2 separate regions of the Homo sapiens genome follow, and region 2 is linked to region 1. Evidence: fine-mapped expression QTL. A gene starts in region 1. The other region holds a variant in brackets. All regions are shown on one strand. Distances are between the middles of the regions.

What was found. PIP is the estimated chance that this variant, and not a neighbour inherited with it, causes the effect.
Region 2: its variant is the best candidate, but not a certain one, in a credible set for the expression of NFE2 in blood mononuclear cells (TOPMed, PIP 0.63).

The regions. Positions count from the first base shown.
Region 1 is chr12:54,295,916-54,306,250 of GRCh38, reverse strand. It overlaps NFE2 (nuclear factor, erythroid 2), which reads left to right and starts at 5,236. Exons shown (of 3, transcript NM_001136023.3): 1 at 5,236-5,450. RefSeq lists cis regulatory regions at 1,490-2,010, 2,190-2,690, 4,490-5,464, 10,070-10,335 and an enhancer at 4,349-5,089.
Region 2 is chr12:54,254,622-54,264,956 of GRCh38, reverse strand. It overlaps CBX5 (chromobox 5), which reads left to right. Exons shown (of 5, transcript NM_012117.3): 2 at 7,265-7,443. The coding sequence starts at 7,307. SCAT2 (S-phase cancer associated transcript 2) reads right to left here and starts at 2,342. Exons shown (of 2, transcript NR_157844.1): 1 at 2,020-2,342. It also overlaps the pseudogene RN7SL390P. RefSeq lists enhancers at 5,470-5,639, 7,833-8,494. The variant A/CA (reference allele first, on the strand shown) is at 5,982.

The DNA of each region.
Region 1 (10,335 bases):
AGAGTGCAATGGTGCGATCTCGGCTCACTGCAACCTCCGCCTTTTGGGTTCAAGCAATTCTCCTGCCTCAGCCTCCCAAGTAGCCGGGACCACAGGCGCCCGCCACCACACCCAGCTAATTTTTATATTTTTAGTAGAGACAGGCTTTCGCCATGTTGGCCAGGCTGGTCTCGAACTCCTGACCTCAAGTTATCCACCTGCCTCGGCCTCCCAAAGTGCTGAGATTACAGGCATGAGCCACCATGCCCAGCCCCCAAGTCTTTTTATTTCATTTTATATGTTATTTATTTATTTATTTTTGAAATGGAATATCGCTCTGTCACCCAGGCTGGATTGCAGTGGCATGATCTCGGCTCACTGCAACCTCTGTCTCCCAGGTTCAAGTGATTCTCCTGCCTCAGCCTCCTGAGTAGCTGGGATTACAGGCATGTGCCACTACACCCGGCTTATTTTTGTATTTTTAGTAGAGACGGGGTTTCACCACGTTGGCCAGGCTGGTCTCAAACTCATGACCTCAGGTGATCCGCTTGCATCAGCCTCCCAAAGTGCTGGGGTTACAGGCGTGAGCCACCGCGCCCGGCCTATTTTGTTTTTGTGAGACAGGGTTTTGCTCTGTCACCCAGGCTGGAGTGCACTGGCACAATCACAGCTCACTGCAGCCTCAACCTCCTGGGCTCAAGCCATCCTTTCACCTCAGCCTTCTGAGTAGCTAGGAGTACAGGTGCATGCCATCATGCCCGGCTATTTTTTTTTTAATTTTTTGTAGAACCAGGGTCCCACTATGTTGCCCAGGCTGGTCTCAAACTCCTAGGCTGAAATGATTCTCCTTCCTCAGCCTCCCAAAGTGCTGGGATTAGAGGTGTGAGCCACTGTGCCCAGCCTCAAGCCCACTAATAAGACTCAAGATCTATGATGCACCGTGAAACTACTTCTCTTTCTAGATTTAGAATTAAGCCCCAGGCCAACATGGTGAAACCCCATCTCTACTAAAAATACAAAAATTAGCTGGGCGTGGTGGCAGGCGCCTGTAATCCCAGCTACTTGGGAAGCTGAGGCAGGAGAATCGCTTGAAACCGGGAGGCGGAGGCTGCAGTGAGCCGAGATCACACCAGTGCATTTCGGCCTGGGTGACAGAGCAAGACTCCATCTCAAAATAATAATAATAATAATAATAACAATAATAATAAAATACAGTAGAATTAAGCCCCAGGGATTATTTCTTCTGGGACTATACTAGGTTTATCTATCAGCCTTCATCCATTTTGGTGTTAGTACTAGGCTCTGCTAAAGGGCATTAACTCTTAGATGCCAGGGTCTGGGAACCTCAGTCGTATCTAACTCCCTTGAAAGCCCCAAACCCTTTTGTCCTGAGAATGGGGTTCAGTCTCCCCTTAACTCCTGAGTCAATCGTCTAAAAATTGTTATCTGAGGAAAGAAACCTCCTCAAAGACTTTTTTAAATCCTATCCTTACCCAAACTGGAACACAAGGAACAATGAGTTATATGCTTCAGAAAATCTAGTCCACCATCTGAGCCTCTGTGTATACCAGGGCCCCCCGCTAAGAGGGGCCTCGCTATTCCTTGGTCCCAGACCCCTCTACCACCTCCCCCAAGCATCGGGGTAACCGCCCGGCTCTGCTGCCTAGGATAACGCCCAGCCCTCCCCTTGCCCCCTGTGGCTGCCTCCCCTTTCCGTCTGTTGAGAGAGGAAGCCAGGGGGTGTTGGGTGCAACCCTGCAGGGCACTGATAAAGGGCCAGCCCTGCCCCCACCCTCTGGGGCCACTGCGGTCAGACCAGCAGGCAAGCAGGCAAGGCAGCCAGCTCCCTCTGGGACCCATGGCCCTCCCCTGGTTCCACCTCTACCCACCCCGCCCTTCTCGGGAAGCTGGTTGCATAACTCAGTGGGGTGTTTGGCAACATTGCTTGTGGCTTGACCTGCTGCTGCTGGTGGTGTACACACACGTTATGAGGGTGAGGGTAGGGGTGGGTTGACCAGGTGTGACAAGAAGTGAATCTTTTAGGGAGTGGGTTAGCAGCATACGTGGAGAATGATAAAATAGTAAAGATATGTGGCCGTGGTTTTCTCCGTATCGTATTCTGTCTCTGCTACCTTTGATGAAGTGGGAGAATCTTGAGGATAGGAAAACCTTAGACATCCCTGCTTTACCAAGTCTTAGGCACTATCCAACCCATTCAGGCTGGCTCCTAATGTTTTGCAATTTGTAAATCAAACAAAGGAGACTTAAGGTAGAAAGGTGTTTGGTCTGGATTTCAGGAATCTGAGAGGAAGGGGCTAAAGGAACCATCCCCTCCTTTGAGGGCTGTAAAGGGTGTTCTGCCTCCAGAACACAGCCTGAGAACCACAGTGAAGTCCTCTTTTTCTGTAGGAGAGGAGTGAGGGTGAGATGGGAGAGACATCTCCACCTAGCCAGTCACCTTATTGAAGGAAGGCTGTCTCTTCACTTAGAACACCCTACTTGACTATGTCTGTCCCTTCAAATAAGTAGTAGATGACCTCAAACACTTCTATGAATCCCTACTATTTATAGGATAAAGTACACTCTCCCTAGATTGACTCTCAAGACATTGTATAATTTAGCCCCTGTCAAATTTTCCAGGCTTATCTTCTCCTACTTCCCATCCCATACCCCAACCTAGCAAACCCAAAGTATTGCTCTGTATTTTATGCCTCCATGCCTTCACATCTTTGCTTGGAATACTCTTTTCCACTTCTCTGCCTGGGAAATTCCTAGTTTTTCTCCACAGCCTAACTTAATTGTCACCTCCTCTGTAAAGCCTTCCTTGAATTTCACTGGGCAGAATTTATTTCCTCTTCTTCTCCATAGCACTGTATATACACCTTTATTTTTTTAATTCAAATTTTTTTTTTTTTTCTAGATAGAGTCTTGCTCTGTCGCCCAGGCTGGAGTGCAGTGGCACGATCTCAGCTCACTGCAACCTCCACCTCCTGGGTTCAAGTGATTCTCCTGCCTCAGCCTCCTGAGTAGCTGGAATTACAGGCACATGCCACCACGCCTGGCTAATTTTTGTATTTTTAGTAGAGAAGGGGTTTCACCATGTTGGTCAGACTGGTCTCGAACGCCCGACCTCAGGTGATCTGCCAGCCTCAGCCTCCCAAAGTGTTGGGATTACAGGCATGAGCCACCGTGCCTGGCCTATTTTATTTTATTTTATTATATACACCTTATTAATGTAATTCCCTGACTAGACTTGACTGAAGATACAGACTGTCTTGCTCATCTTTGTGTTCCTGGGATGTAAAACATAGTAGACACTCAATAAATATTTGTTGAATGAATGAATGATGAGCCTTGTGTTACCCATAATTGTCTATGCAACACCAGTATCCTGAACTGATAATTCTTATTCAATAAATGTTTGTTGACTATCTATAACCTGATATCATTATATAGTCAGCCACAAGTGTGACTGTTACCATTCTTCATCCCCTCTGAGTGGCCCAAATAAATATGCAAATGAGAGAATTATATCTGAGAGCCTACATATGTGACCCAGATTCATGCCCAAGTCTGAAGAGATTCTGAACCCACATGTAACATGTAATGAAGGCATTGGATTGCCTCCTGTCTTACCTTGATCATGCATGTGCAGTCATGATCTACTGGAAAAGGGATGGAATTCAAAGCATTTAACCATAGGTTTGGCATGGGCATTGGCCAATTCCAGCAGAAGCAGGCAGCACAGGAGGCTCCTTATGGTACCAGCATTGCCTCTTTACTTCCATGGTTGTGTTGCTGGGTTGTTGGGGATCTTAGAGGAGAACTAGGCTATTGGTGGAGTCGTGGGGGACACTTAGAGGGCTCACAGCAGCTGCCTTTTATCAACTAGGACTGAACATTTTCATTATTTTAACAGCAAATACAATCCCATCAGAGCATGCTGGTTGAATGCCAGTCCTACTCCAGAGTGGCACCTATCTGCTTCCCCAGTCTTCAGATGTTTCTAATTTAACTTGAACATTGTAAGAAGAAAAAATGTAAGCTGCAGATGTCAGGATTGAAGCTAGACATATAGAGCTGAAAGCCATTACAAATTAGGAGGAAGAAAGGCTCTTTTCTCACAGTCTGTGGAGAAAGATGTTTGACCTGGGGCTTTGGTGGTGTAGCTTGCAGGCAAAAAGATGAATAAGTGGGCTGGGTGAGGTGGCTCATGCCTGTAATCCCAGCACTTTGGGAGGCCAAGAGGGGAGGATTGCTTGAGCCCAAGAATTCAATACCAGCCAAGGCAATATAGTGAGACACCACTTCTACCAAAAAAAAAAAAAAAAAAAAAAATTAGCTGGGCATGGTTGCACTGACCCATAGAACCAGCTACTTGGGAGGCTGAGGTGGGAGGATTGCTTAAGCCTGGGAGTTTGAGACTGTAGTGAAACATGTTCACACCACTGCACTCCAGCCTGGGAGACAGAGTGAGCCCCTCTCTGGAAAAAAAAAAAAAAAAAGATGAATAAGGGTACTTACTGGCCTAACAGAGTTGGGTGCCATGTGGCTGGGGTGCTTTGCCTGGGAGAAAGGAGGACAAAGGACACCTGGGGTCCCCTTTACGGGAGGTGAATAATCTCCCTGCTGGGTGGCCCCCCACCTAACTCCCTTCACACACTGACAAAAACCTGGCCAAGAAAGAATCCTTTGTCCTGGGACTTCTGAGGCTGAGGGGGGAGGGGAGAAGGCTACAGGTGAAAGGACACATCAAAGCAGTCAGTTGCCCCTCCTCCTCCAAATAGTTCCCCTGCCCTTGTTCCCAGAGCCCAGGTTTTCTGTAAATGAAGGCTATACCCTAAACGTCCAACTGCCTAGACAGCTGGGAAGCTAGACACCTGGTCCTTACCTTCAGCTGCCTTCCACCTTGATATGACTCAGTTTCCCTGTCCCTAGGAGAGCCGTGGGGACACAAGGCGACGACAACCTGTATAAAGTTTAAAGGTCACATTCGAGTGGACCATCAGGTTGGAATTCGTCAAATGCATGGGAGAAACGCAGACCTGGCTGGACTCCTGGGCTGAAAAGGAGGGCTGGGAGAGGCTTGGAGCCATGTGTGCCCCCGCTGGCCAGGAGCAAGGTGGGGGCGGGGTGTGGGCAGAAACCACATCGGGCTCAAGTTTCCTCTCTTGGCCGAAAGGGGCAGGAGGAGAGGAGAGCCACGGGGAAAGGGGAGGGTTGGAGGAAGGACTGAGAACTCAGGCCGAGGGCTTCAGACGCTGGTGCGCCTGCTTGGGGCTCCTGTGCTCAGCTCAGCCTGAGCTTCCACACTCAGCGCTCAGCAATGGCCCGGGGGCGGGGCGCGGTCCTCGCAGATTCTCAAAGGTAGCCGGGATCCTCGTCCAGCAGTGTCAGCTCAGGCTCAGCCTCCCCAGAGACAACACCGGGAGCCTCATCTCTCTCCTCACCCTGCTGTGACTCCACCACAGGTGCCTGAAAGGCAGGGTGTGTGTGGGGGGGGCGGATTCCAGTGAGATCCGAGGGGCAGGCTGGGGGGTGAAGGAGGTGAGGGGGGAAAATAACCAACTTTCGGTATCCTAGGAGACCTCAGACTTTCTAGATTGCCCCTGGTTTAGGAATCTGACATATTTGGGAACTCCTCTAGGAGAAGACCTAAGTGGTTTCTTGGGTGCTCTGGGATCCTTGGGGTGGAGGCTGTGAATGGGGATCAGAGAGGGGTCTCCAGAGGCAAGGCACCGCTGAGGGGCTGGGGAGTAGCCAGGAGGAATCCTTCAACTGGTGGGCTACCCTGAGGGAACCAATAGACTACCCTTTCCCCAACTCCATTCCATTACTCTGCCCTGTCTAGGCAGCTGAGAAGGTTTAGGGAAAGCTGAGGAATTGGAAACACTGGATATCTGAACCTCTGAGAAGTGTTGCAAGGTGCGGGGGTTGGATGGGAGATTGCCTCTGGGTTGTTGGCTCCTTTGCCCTTTCTCTTCTCTGTGCCCAGGGGCAGTAGAGATCAGCTGGACCTGGAGGGAGAAGGAAGACATCCCAACCCCAGCATAGTTGCTTCTAACTGGAACTCTTGGCTGCTTGGGAAATAGGGGCTTGGGAAGCAGTGGAAGAGAAGAGAGGAGGTATCAGAACTGCTGGGGCTGGGATCCCCTAGACATCGGTACCAAAGGACTGGAGTTTGGGGTCCAGGGATGAAGTGACACAATAGCAGAAACTCGTCCCCCTCTTCTTTGTTCTCACACATTTGTTTGAGTCATGCATGTCCCTAGGGCACTGAGCTCACTATGCTTAAATCTCTCTCCCTCCTTTTTTTCCCCTTCATTCTGTCTCATCTCTGTGTGTCTCTCTCTCTTCGGGAGTTCTCCCTAATCTTTCTAAATAGGTTGCTTACCGGTTAACCAATACCCCAAGTTTTACTAATCCCTCCTCATCCTTTCACTGCACCTATTGACACCTGGAGAGGTGAGGTGGTCAAATAAGCCTCAGAAAAGGGATCCTGAGGCAAGCCCCCTCTCATCGTTCCCCCTCGTTAAGGAAGTTAAGAGCCCTGGGGCAGCAGCTAAGGCCAAATGTATTCCTCTCTCCATCATCCCTCTCCGAATAGTCCTCACTCTGTATTCCTAATCATGAAGCTCCGTATCATTCTGTGAGTACTTAGGGATTATGATAAAAATCTTTCTGGGTAGGACCACCAGGCTAAGAGTAAGGAGGATGGACTTTAGTCCCTGGTGACAACCCCATTTCTACCTAATCCATAATGTTGGGGAGTAAGAGAAGGAACAGACAACCCAGTGGGAGTAAGATGGTGGTGTGACCCCAAAATGCAAAAGCTAAACTGTAAAGTGGGAGCTTCTTATTGTAAAAGAAAGGGAACACAGGGAAGCCCACTTCACTTTCCCAGTATCTCCCCAGTTTCTATACCCTCTATGGTGTTCTATTTGATCCAATTCTATCTATCTCCCTGATCTATCCCACTGCCTGCCAGCTCTGCTGTCCTCTGAAAGGTAGGCTCTGGAAACCCAGAGGGACCCTATGCCTGGTGTATAGAACACCATCCATCCTTGAGCGTCTAGGGAAAAGCATCCTGCTCCACCTGCCACCTGGTACAAACTTGCTACTGCACCCAAGAGCTGGTTGGAATGGATCCAGAGGTTCTCCTCAACTCTCTCTCCCCCAAACTCCTGCCTCCCCTTGCTCCCCTTCTTTTTTTTTTTTTTTGAGACAGAGTCTTACTCTGTTGCCCAGGCTGGAGTGTAGTGGCATGATCTCAGCTCACCGTAACCTCTACCGCCCAGGTTCAAGCAATTCTCATGCCTCAACCGCCTGAGTAGCTGGGATTACAGGTGTGCGCCACCAGACCTGGCTAATTTTTGTATTTTTAGTAGAGATGGGGTTTTGCCATGTTGGCCAGGCTGGTCTCAAATTCCTGACCTCAGGTGATCCACCCACCTCAGCCTCCCAAAGTGCTGGGATTACAGGTGTGAGCCACCACACCTGGCCACTGAGGCACTTTTAAAATGCTGATTCCTGGGTTTATGGATTCAATTCAGTAGATTTGAAGTGGCTTTTAGGAATCTGTGTCTTTACATGTAGCCCAGGTGAATGTGGCACACAATGAAGTTTGTGACTCCCTGAGCTAGATGCAACCTATGGCCTTTAATAGCAATTAGGTTCCTAGTCCTGTCTCCATTTAATGGAAGGGACTGAATGAGAAGCAATTTGCCCACGGTCATGTATCTTTTTTTTTTTTTTTTTTTTTTTGATGTGGAGTTTCACTCTTGTTGCCCAGGCTGGAGTGCAATGGCATGATCTTGGCTCACCACAACCTCCGCCTCCTGGGTTCAAGCGATTCTCCCACCTCATCCCCCCAAGTAGCTGGGATTACAGGCATGCGCCACCATGCCCGGCTAATTTTGTATTTATAGTAGAGACAAGGTTTCTCCATGTTGGTCAGGCTGGTCTTGAACTCCCGACCTCAGGTAATCCTCCCATCTTGGCCTCCCAAAGTGCTGGGATTACAGGCGTGAGCCACCGTGCGTAGCAAGGTCTTGTATCTTAAGTGCCAGAGAACCTAGGTCTCTGGCCTCCTAGGGCAGGATCTTTGTACTGCACCTTAGAGTCAGATCCAAGAAGATAAAAGGAGAGACAAATGGGGGGATTGGGGTGAGTAAAGAACTGTGAAGCAAGAGTCATTGTCTCTGCCTCCTAAACCCCTTCTCCATTCACTTTGCCTTTGGGCAATTTCCGCCAGAACCTGGGTGGAGGAGGGTGGGGTTCCGGTGTTGAAATGGCATCCTGGACAGACATAAACACCCCACCCACTCTGCCCACTGGCAGAGTTGCCTACACCAACTCCCATCTCTGGGGATGGCAGTAAAACAAGGGGATGGAGGCAAGGGCTAGGGGAGATACTCTTTCAAAAGGATCATTTGTAGTTCCTACTAATTTTGTGGTAAGTCGAAGAGAAGATTCCATATTAAATTGCTGTGATGGGCCATCCTTGTGGTGAGTGGTCTAAGGTCATGCAATTTGAGGTCATACAATCCTATCCTCTGTCCTTCTTTTTCTTTCTTTTCTTTTTTTTTTTTTTTTTTTTTTTTTCCGAAACAGAGTCTCACTCTGTCGCCCAGGCTGGAGTGCAGTGGTGCGATCTTAGCTCACTGCAACCTCCGCCTCCCGGGTTCAAGCAATTCTCCCTGCCTCAGCCTCCTGAGTAGCTGGGATTACAGGCGCCCACCACCAAGCCTGGCTATTACTTGTATTTTTAGTAGAGATGGGGGTTTCACCATGTTGGCCAGGCTGGTTTCGAACTCCTGACCTCAGGTGATCCACCTGCCTCAGCCTCCCAAAGTCCTAGGATTACAGGTGTGAGCCACTGCACCTGGCCGTTTTTTTTTTTTTTTTTTTTTTTTGAGACAGGGTCTTGCTCTGTCACCCAGGCTCTCGAGTGCGGTGGCACAATCATGGCTCACTGCAGCCGTGACCTTTCAGGTTCAAGTGATCCTCCCACCTCAGCCTCCTGAGTAGCTGGGACCACAGATGTGTGCCATTATGCCTAGCTAATTTCTGCATTTTTAGTGGAGATGGGTTTTCACCGTGTTTCTCAGGCTGATCTCAAACTCCTGGGCTCAAGCAATCCTTCCACCTTGGCCTCCCAAAGTGCTTCCCCTCTCCCATGTTTCCTTCATCCTAGCCTGCTTCCCTATACTGATATGGCACGGTATGTCTGTGTGCGTGCACATAGACACAATGTCTGACCGTAGAGATCAGGAAGACCTTGCCAAATCTACTTGGAATCTCTTGCTGACGGCAGGGAAAACAGATGCAAGGAAGGTGGGTGTCAGGGAATAGGGAGGTAGCATGAGGAGAGGGACTGACAGAAGAAGATAAAGACACGGGTGAGGGTTTGCTGAGAATTCTAAGCTATCCAAGCAGAAAGGGACCTCCAAGGTCAATTTGTCCAACTCCCTGGTTTTACAAATGAGGAAACAGAGGCCCAGAGAAGTGAGATGGCTTGCCCAACATCACACTGCTGCTTTGTGGCAGAGCTGCAACTAGAACCCAGGTCAAAAGAAAAGGGACTGGAGGGCAGTGTATATTCAAGGCTCTAAAGAGACATTGCCCAGAAGGAGAAAGAGAGACTGACACTCCACAGAAAGAACTGATGAATGTAGACTTCCAGTAGAGGTTTGGAGTATGAAGATACAGGGGCAGGAGGGGAAGGTGCCTAGAAGACATTATAGTCAGGTAGAGTCAGGTTCTGGACCTCATCCTGCTATTATTTATCAGCTTCAGTCTCAGTTTCTGATGTACCTTTAGAATCTTTGTGAAAACCAGTCTTTTTTTTTTTTTTTTTTTTGAGACATAGTCTAACTCTGTCAGCCAGGCTGGAGTGCAGTGGCGCGATCTCGGCTCTCTGCAGCCTCCACCTCCTGGGTTCAAGTGATTCTCCTGCCTCAGCTTCCCGAGTAGCTGGGACTACAGACATGTGCCACCCCACCACGCCCAGCTAATTTTTGTATTTTTAGTAGAGACGGGGTTTCCATGTTGGCCAGGCTGGTCTCGAACTCCTGACCTCAGGTGATCCACCTGCCTTGGCCTCCCAAAGTGCTGGGATTACAGGCCTGAGCCACCGCGCCCGATGAAAACCAATCTTATAAACTAAGCTTGCAATACCAGCACAGTTCTTAACAAGTGCTTACTAAGTCTTTACTAAGGTTATATTACCTCAGAAGAGGAAAGACTTCTGATTGTATGGGTTAAGGTATGGCCCAAATGACCCTGTGAGGACACAGGACAGAGGTCCAGTGTCTCCAGAGCCCATTCCTTCTGTGCCTCTGCTGCCTGCAACTG
Region 2 (10,335 bases), 41 kb after region 1:
AGAGCTCATTGATTATGCATCTTGACATTTGGTTTGATTACCATCTTTAATTCAGTGGGTAGTTCAGTGAGGCAGCTTACCAATTGGCTTTCTTTTTCTTTTTTTTTTTCTTTGAGATGGAGTTTCACTCTTGTCTCCCAGGCTAGAGTGCAGTGGCGCAATCTTGGCTCACTGCAACCTCTACCTCCCAGATTCAAGCGATTCTCCTACCTCAGCCTCCCCAGTAGCTGGGATTACAGGCACCTGCCACCACACCTGGCTAATTTTTGTATTTTTAGTAGAGATGGGGTTTCGCCATGTTGGCCAGCCTGGTCTCAAACTCCCGACCTCAGGTGATCCACCCACCTTGGCCTCCCAAAGTGCTGGGATTACAGGCATGAGCCACTGCGCCCGGCTGGCTTTCATTCTTAATAAGAAGAAAGCTTAGTGAAAGATCTAGAATTATGTGTACTTTTGCTCATAAGTGGTGATGAAAATGAAATGACTATAACAAGATAAGAAAAGCCACCAGAATTGGTATTGAGAAGTAGTGACTGCTTTGTGGGGGTAAGGCAGGAGGATTGCTTCAGCCCAGAAGTTTGAGACCAGCTTGGGCAACACAGTGAGACTGCATCTCACCAAAAAATAAAAAAATGTAGCCAGGCATGGTGGCGTGCCCCTGTGGTCCCAGCTGCTCAGAAGGCCAAGGTGAGAGGATTGCTTGAGCCCAGGAGTTTGAGACTGCAATAAACTGTCCGCACCACTGCACTGCAGCCTGAACAACAGAACGAGGCCCTGTCTCAAAAAAGAAATGACTGGAGGGATGAGAGTAGAACCTGAACTGGACAAAGCAGACAGATACCAGGGACCCTATGTGGGTTCTTCCAGCATTAAACGGTCAATGCTGAGGGCTAACCATTACCTCTTTTTTATTTGAGACGGAGTCTCACGCTGTCTCCCAGGCTGGAGTGCAGTGGTGCGATCTCGGCTCACTGCAAGCCCCGCCTCCTGGGTTCACACCATTCTTTTGCCTCAGCCTCCCCAGTAGCTGGGACTACAGGCTCCCGCCACCACATCTGGCTAATTTTTTGTATTTTTAGTAGAGACAGGGTTTCACCATGTTAGCCAGGATGGTCTCAATCTCCTGACCTCGTGAGCCACTGCGCCTGGCCTTTTTTTTTCTTTTTTCTTTTCTTTTTTTTTTTTTTTTTTTTTGAGATAGAGTCTTACCCTGTTGCCCAGGCTGGAGTGCAGTGGCGCGATCTCAGCTCACTGCAACCTCCGCCTCCCGTTTAAGCGATTCTCCTGCCTCACCCTCCTGAGTAGCTGGGATTACAGGTGCGTAACTGCCTCAGCCTCCCGAGTAGCTGGGATTACACCACGCCTGACTAATTTTTTTGTGTCTTTAGTAGAGACGGGGTTTCACCATGTTGGCCAGGCTGGTCTCAAACTCCTGACCTCATGATCCACCTGCCTTGGCTTCCCAAAGTGCTGGGATTACAGGCGAGAGCCGCTGTGCCGGCCTACCTCTTGTTTTTCTGGGTTGCCCTAGCTTGCTTGTGATGCCCTCTCTGTAATTGCTGAGGACTGATAAGTTTTTTGTTTGGTTTTTTTTTGAGACGGAGTTTTGCCCTTGTTGTCCAGGCTGGAGTGCAATGGCTTGATCTCGGCTCACTGCAACCTCCATCTTCTGGGTTCAAGTGATTCTCCTGCCTCAGCCTCCCAAGTAGCTGAGATAACAGGTGCCTGCCACCACACCTGGCTAATTTTTGTATTTTTAGTAGAGACAGGGTTTCACCATGTTGGCCAGGTTGGTCTGGAACTCCTGACCTCAGGAGATCTGCCCGCCTCGGCCTACCAAAGTGCTGGGATTACAGGCGTGAGCCACCGCGCCCAGCCTCTTTTCTCATCTCAATGGGCCTTAGGTGCTGTAATCTATAGTTATTGGTAGCTTTACCAGATAGTTCCTATGTATATTTAAGAGAGAAGGCTGAGAGCTGTTATGCCTGAAAGACTCCAGAAATTTGAGAAGCTACTCACCCTTTCCCTTGGAGATTTCCACAAGGATAAGGTTGTGTTCAGAGGCTCATCTTCTTTTCCTCTGTCATGGTATTGGGATTCTATCTTAATCACTCCATCATCCTGCCAGCCATGTCTCATTTCTCATGCTGGAAAGCTCCCTCCTCCTAAGCTCAGTGTGAACCACCAGTCTTGATGCTTTATCTGGTCTAGGCTCTAGCCCTTAAATTGTTTGACTGGCTTTGTGTTTCATTTGACCCTAATACTCCGGGTCACACTGTCTAAAAGAGAATTATGTCCCCTCCGATGTCTGAGTGCATTTCTCATTTCTTACTGCTGCTCCTGAGCAGATCTGTAACTTCAAGGTTAAGATAAGACACATTCCATCAGAACTATGTCGTCATCCTTGCCAGCTTCTGATCTGTGACTGTCTAGGAGATTTACAAGACAATTGCATGCCATCCTTTAAAGAATATTATGGTTGTACTCTGACTCCTGGCATCAGGCCCAATTCGATTTGTCAGTGGTTACAAAACCCATTTCCCAAAAAGAAAAGGACCTCGGCCCATGTGCCCTTTAGGCAGTTCTTAAGGGTGGAAAGGAGGGAATTGAACTCAATCTTTATTTTCTGATGTTTTGTGGGGAGGGGTGGACACCAGAATATTTTTGTCTCTTTCCTCATTAAATTCACTTTTCTTTCTCTGAAAGGTTTCACCAAAATGTTAGTATTGCTGTCATTCTCTCCTGTTCCTTATTCCTTCACAGAGTTACTATTAGTCTTTTCATTCTGCCATCTTTAAAGTTTGTCTGAGTTTTAAGGAATAAGTATTTTGCCCTTGAGAGAGAACGTACCTACCCTGTTCTCTGAAGGTTTATTCGTTTTCCAGTGCCTAGTTAACAAAGACACTGTTCCTCTTTTTCTTGCTATCTACTAATGTGTTGAGCTGCAGGAGTTACTGCATGTGATATGGTTTACTAGCTTAGGAATTTGGAAGGTCACATATTTTCTTCTGCTGTTGTATTCAGCCCTGACATATTTTTACAGAAGGTTCTTTTTGGGGGACTTAATAGATCTTTGGTTTCAACATAAACTCACTTTTTCCCTCGGAGGTACGTAGGGCAGGTAGTACAGATTTATTTAGCCCGTTTAAATGATGCCGGGGTTAGATGGAAAATTTATTTACTCAGGATAACACATGGCAAGTTAATCAGAGTCAGGATCCTATTTAAATGTTTGTTATTGTTTTTATATCCCTTAATTATGAAAAGTTAAAAGGTAAGAGTTGAAAAATGCCGTTTTTAATTGGAGGTTTGCTGATGGTCCATTCAAATCTGAGGAAATCTTTTGTAATTAAAAAATTTCTGGCCGGGTGCAGTGTCTCATGCCTGTAATCCCAGCACTTTGGGAGGCCCAGGTGGGCGGATCACAAGATGAGGAAATCGAGACCATCCTGGCCAACATGATGAAACCCCATCTCTGCTAAAAATACAAAAATTAGCTGGGCGTGGTGGCACATGCCTGTAATCCCAGCTACTTGGGAGGCTGAGGCAGGAGAATCCCTTGAACCAGGGAGTTGGAGGTTGCAGTAAGCCGAGATGGCGCCACAGCACTCTAGCCTGGTGACAGAGCGAGACTCCGTCTCAAAAAAAAAAAAGAAAAAAGAAAAAAATTTCTACTTTGGTCTTACACCCTATGGTTTCTTCTGTTTGACAGTCGTAATAGTCACCATTGTGCTTCTTCTCAACTGAGTTCTTTTTTTTTTTTTTTTGAGACGGTTTCGCTCTTGTTGCTCAGGCTGGAGTGCAGTGGCGCAGTCTCGGCTCACTGCAACCTCTGCCTCCCAGGTTCAAGCGATTCTCCTGCCTTAGCCTCCCAAGTAGCTGGGATTACAGGCAAGTGCTACTATGTCTGGCTAATTTTTGCATTTTTAGTAGAGATGGGGCGTCACCATGTTGGTCAGGCTGGTCTCGAACTCCTGACCTCAGGTAATCCACCTGCCTCGGCTTCCCAAAGTGCTGGGATTACAGGTGTGAGCCACTGTTCCTGGCTCAACTGAGTTCTTTGCTTTTGATTGTCCCTTTTTCTTACTCTCCTATGGCAGCCACTTCTGGCTTTAAAGTTCCCACATCTATAAAGCAGAGTAGAGTTTTGGAGCTCTCTAAAATGTTCTTTAGAGCCAGAAGAATGGAAAACTTACAGTATTTCAAGTCTCTATATATCTTTTTTATTTATCCTAGTACTCCTTTTCTCAAGTATTGAGACATACTGATACAGAGAGTTGTATATTAATAATGTATCAGGTGATGAATAATTATTTAAAAATCTGTTTTATAACATTATAGAGCAACCTATAAGTGGTTTAAATTTATCAACCATTAGGTTGTGGCAGAACTGCTCTCCTCTTTTTTTTTTTTAAGCTTCTTAGGAATTTTTTTCCACCTAAATTCATTTTGTTTTATTTTTTCGAGACAGTCTCACTCTTGTCGCCCAGGCTGGAGTGCAGTGGTGCGATCTAGGCTCACTGCAACCTCTGCCTCCTGGGTTCAAGCGATTTCTCCTCCCTCAGCCCCCTGAGGAGCTGGGACTATATGCGCCTGCCACCACACCTGGCTAATTTTTTTGTATTTTTAGTAGAGACGGGGTTTCACCACGTTGGTCAGGCTAGTCTTGAGCACGTGACCTCAAATGATTGCCCCGTCCCGGCCTCCCAAAGTTCTGGGATTACAGGCATGAGCCACTGCACCTGGCCCTCCACCTCTAATTTTAGTTAAAAGGGGTTTTTTTTTTTTTTTTTTTTGGTTGTTGTTTTGGTAGTGCTTCATGTCTTTGGATTTTGTCTCTAGTAATCCCCCCAAAGAAGGAAAGTTATATAGTGTCTTTAAAATACTTCCCCTCCCCTGTTTCCTGTTATTTTTCCCCTCAAGCAATTTTAATTAACTGTTCTGTGACAGACGGTAAAATGGGATTGCCCAAAGTGCTCTGGTGGGCTGGATTAAGTGATGGGTGGTTTGTACTGATCGTGTTGTAGAAGGATCGAGCCTTTCCCCTCCCCCTTCAGTTGAGCTGTAATCTTGTTAGATGATCTTAAAATGTTATTGATTAATTCACAGTGCTGTTAGAGGAATAAGCATAAATACTGGATTTAAAACCTAAGAAGTAATTCCCTTAAGCTCTGAATGCCTTAGCCTTGAGGCCAAGAGAGGTACCTTCCAATTTCTCCACCCAGTCTTCACTGAAAAGGAAAGTTAAGCCTTTTAACTTTTCCATTTGCTTCTCCCCCTTAGTGTAGTACTGCTGCCAGTTGCTATGGCAACGGACTGGGACAGCTGCGCAGTGGCGCCCAGGCAGCTGGGTGGGGGCAGGGGAGCTGCCAGCCCGCCAAGACCCAGACCTGGGAGGGGAGGCCCCTCCTGTTAGCCCAGAGGGAAAGAAAGAACTGGGGCGATCCGGTAGGTAAAGGAGGGAACCCCCATTCATTTTCTACCTTTGGGGCTCCTCTTCTGCATGAAGGTATAAAGGGAGATTTTCCTTGTCTCTCCCTCAAAATGAAGAACACATGTAAATCCTTGTTTTTCCTGGTGAGGCAGGGGAGGCCATAGCCACAATGCTTAACTGCATGCATCTAACATGGGGCTGGTTTTAACCCCAGCGCTCTGACCTAAACTGCTCAGCTCCCGGAAATTCCAAGGTGAGTGGTGGTGGGGGTGGGGTACTCTCCCTGGAATATGACATTTCCTGTCTCTGGTGAGGTTGGAGGCTGTTTTATTTTAAATAAAGCACATAAGATATTTTCTTGAAGCTTAGGACTCTTCTAAATTCATGGAAAAATTATTTTAACCCCCCCGCACCTACATTTTGCTACTACTTCCTCTTCCAAATAGAGTATTTTAATAAAAACTTAGTCTTATAGGGCAGTAATGGGTATAGGCAGTTTTTTAGGTGGGCAGACCTATAGCTAATAAGTTCTGGAGATATGGTCTCC[A/CA]ACTATATATTCTTGTAATAATTTTTAAAATTTTGCTAATTTGAAGTGAATTGATAATTGCCACTTTTTATGTGACTTGAACATCATTCTGAGGTTAGTAGTGGGCCCTCCCTGACCCAGTGGTTTTCTGGTCAGGGTGGAAATATTTAGAGGGTGCTGATAAACATCTTTAAAGATTACAGGAAAATAATAATGGAGTTCAGCTAAGAAAACAATTTCTGCTACTCTGTAATCCAGACTGTAGGCACCATTTAGCATGGTTAAGGAAGAATTCTTAAAAATGATTATGGAACAACAACATGGGAATTTTTAAAACTAGATTCTCTGTTGAGTACCCCCTGGTGTGCATATTTCTGAGCTTAACTCAATTTCCATTTGTGTTTCCTTGCTTCAGCTTTCCTTGGGCCTATGAATGGTTCCTCTGTATTTTGAGGAGGCTTCATGTTGATGCTGAGTCTGGGGCCAGACTTCTTTTTCCTCCTCCTCTTCCTTTGGCCCTGAGTCAACTTCAGTTAAGAGGGAGAGGTACCTTCTTAACTATTTGGGTTAGTTGCATCTTGGGAATTACTGAATAATCTAGTGACTAATTTTGAATTTTAGGACTGAAAAATTTTTTCTCCTTTCTGCCTCCCTCCCATCCCCAAATTAGCTTTCTAAAAAGGAAGATTAGTGTGTTTGAGATGTCAGCCTTGCTTTTGTGAGCTGATGGATGCTCTGAAGGGACAAGCTCAATTTGTTTAAGGGAAATGTACCAAGTCACTGAAAATGTGGTGAAAGGTGCCTAAGCAAGCCTTTTTTGTGTGCTGCTAAGAGACTGGGCAAGATGCTCAGAGCACAGAAAACTCATATTTTAGTGGCTTTTCTTTTTTCATTTTTATAAAGACGCTTATTCACCTTGGAGAAAAAGGTTTTAATTTTATCTTGGTTCATTTAACTAAAGATTTTGCACATTTCTGTTTGAGTTCCTGGCTTGTAAACAGTTACAAACATAGCCAGGAATAACATACCACACTACTTGTCTTTTGGAATCTGAAATAGAAGAGTTAAACAGTTGTGCCTTCTAATAATTTTGGTCTCTTTAGCCGAAGAGGAGGTTGTAGTTGAGGAAGTGAAGACTGATTCATTTTTAAATTAAACTCTTAGGACTCATCTGTAGAATGATTTGAGACTCAAGAGCAGGGCACATGGCAACTCAGTGTTATCCCCTTTTCATCCCATCAAGAAAAGACAAAGTTTTTAACTCCTCACATGGATTCTAACCATTTTGTCCTTTGCCTTTGCAGGGACCTGGTGGCCTTAGTCTTTCAGGTGGAACGGTGTGCGACATGGGAAAGAAAACCAAGCGGACAGCTGACAGTTCTTCTTCAGAGGATGAGGAGGAGTATGTTGTGGAGAAGGTGCTAGACAGGCGCGTGGTTAAGGGACAAGTGGAATATCTACTGAAGTGGAAAGGCTTTTCTGAGTAAGTTCCTTTTTTCCCCCAGGCGTTGGGACTCTGTAGAGATAGATACCTTTGGTTTACTTCCTTAGGAATCACAAGCATTTTTGTCTTTTTCTTCCCCCTCCTGCACTCTTCCTAAGAGTTAGAAGACACAGCAGTAAAGAAAACAAAATCTCTCCGCTTGTGGAGCTTACGTTCTAATGATACTGCTTTTGAAAGGCAGTATAATGAATTGGTTAGGAGCACAGACTCGAGAGTCAGATTGCTTGGGTCTAGATTCTAACTCCACCACTTATGATACAAACTGGATGGCCTTGGCTAATTTCCTTAATCATTTTATCTCCTCAGTGAAATAAGGATAAGCAGTAGTGCTTATAAGGCCAGGCGTGGTGGCTTGCACTCTAATCTCAGCACTTTGGGAGGCTGAGGCGGGTGGATCACCTGAGGTCAGGAGTTTGAGACCAGCCTGGCCAACATGGTGAAACTCCATCTACTAAAAATAAAAAAATTAAGTGTGGTGGCAGGTCCCTGTAATCCCAGCTACTCCAGAGGCTGAGGTAGGAGAATCACTTGAACCTAGGAGGCGGAGGTTGCAGTGAGCCAAGATTGCGCCACTGCACTCCAGCCTGGGTGACTGTGTTTTTAGTAGAGGCAGGGTTTTGTCATGTTACTCAGGCTGGTCTCGAACTTCCAGGCTCAAGTGAGCCACCTGCCTTGGCCTCCCAAAGTGCTGGGATTACAGCCGTGAGCCACCGTGCCTGGCTGTGAAATTAATTTTAATAATATTTTATTTAACCTAATACGTGAAAAATACTATTTCAGCGTTAATCAGTACAAAAGTTATTAATGAAATTTGTGTGTGTGTGTGTGCTAAGACTTGAAAATCTGGGATGTATTTTATACTTTATAGTGCATCTCCATTCAAACTAGCTGCATTTCAAATAGGCACATGTGGCTAGTGGTTACCATATTGGATGGCACAGCTCCTGCAGTCTAGGACCTAAATACACTAAAAGATACAGTGGTTTACCAATACTTTTGGATAAAGGCTATGTGTCAAGAACCTTTGAAACATACTGGAGGTTATTTCATTACATGACTCAAGGTTTCTCATCTGGAGAATTATTGGCGTTGTAGGTGGGATCATTCATGCATTGCAGGATGCTTAGCATCTCTAGCACCCAGAGTGCAAGTATGGGTAGCACAACAATCAGAAGATGCCCTCTGTTTGTAGAGAGGAGTGGTATCACAGCTTCCACTAGAGATGAGAACTGTTAAAGTTTGAGAGACCTCTAGAGCACTAACAGATAGGAACTAAAGTAACACCAGAAGATTTTGAAGATGTTTATTGGGCCCATTTCCACTGGAAATATTTGGGTGTTTGAAAGATACTTGAAACTCTTTCTCTGTCATTGAGCTACTGGTACCTTACCATAGATGAAAGGGGAAAAGGTAAGGTTTGGGGTAGACAAAGTAAACATTGGTCCTTTTTCAGAAATGCCCTGGATTTCATAAAAGACTGGAACAAATCAGCATTGTCTATAACTAAATGCCTACTTTGTGCTAGACAGTGATCAAATTCTACCTCTTGTGCTCTCTTCGATTCTCACAAAAGCATTTAGAGTCCAGGCATGGTGGTATGTACCCGTGGTCCCAGCTACTAGGGAGGTTGAAGTGGGAGGATTGCTTGAGTCCAGGAGTTTTGGGCTGTAGTGCACTAAACCGATCAGGTGTCTGCATTAAGTTTGGCATCAATATAGTGACCTCCCAGGAGTGAGGGACCACCAGGTTGCCTAAGTAGGAGTGAACCAGAGCAGGTCAGAACTCCCATTTTGAGCATTAGTAGGATCGTACCTGTGAATAGCCACTGCACTCCTGTCTGGTTAACATAGCAAGACCCTTGCCTCTTTCAAAACTTTAATTCTTTTTTTAATTTAAATTTTTACATATTTTTATCTTTTTTTTTTTTTTTTTTTGAGACAGAGTCTCTCACTATCGCCCACGCTGGAGCTCAGTGGCGCGATCTCAGCTCACTGCAACCTCCGCCTCCCGGGTTCAAGCGATTCTCCTGCCTCAGCCTCCCGAGTAGCTGGGATTACAGGTGCCTGCCACCACGCCCAGCTAACTTTTTGTATTTTTAGTAGAGACAGCATTTCACCATGTTGGCCAGGCTGGTCTCGAACTCCTGACCTTGTGATTCGCCCACCTCAGCCTCCCAAAGTGTTGGGATTACAGGCGTGAGCCACCACGCCCTGCTTTTTTATCTTCAAAATAGAGACAGGGTCTCACTGTGTTACCCAGGCTGGTCTCGCTCTCTTGGGTTCAAGCGATCTGCCTGCCTTGGCCTCTTGAAGTGCTGGGATTATAGGTGTGAATCACTATTCCTGGCCAACCCAGGCTCTTTTTAAATCATACTATGTTGTCTTTTGGGTGGAAACTGAAGTAGAAGCAGCAGTACCAAAGTGTTAGGAAAAGGGATAATCGCATTATAGGACTGGCTTTTCTAGCTATCAACAGATTCTTCCCAACCCCCAAGTGTATTCGGCTTGTGTAATAGTCTTGGTACACCTTTTGATATTGGTATGTTAATTTCCTCTGGGATGGTAAACTATATGGTCTGTGGGTTTTGGGGAAAGTTACTGTGTGAGGAATTTTTTTTCTTGACTTCTTTTCTTTTTTTGAGACAAGAGTTTTGCTCTTATTGCCCAGGCTGGTGTGCAATGGCGTGATCTTGGCTCACTGCAACCTCCTTCTCCCGGGTTCAAACGATTCTCCTGCCTCAGCCTCCTGAGTAGATGGGATTACAGGCGCCCGCCACCACGCCCTTCTAAATTTTGTATTTTTATTAGAGATGGGGTTTCACTGTGTTGGCCAGGATGGTCTCGACCTCCTGACCTCAGGTGATCCACCTGC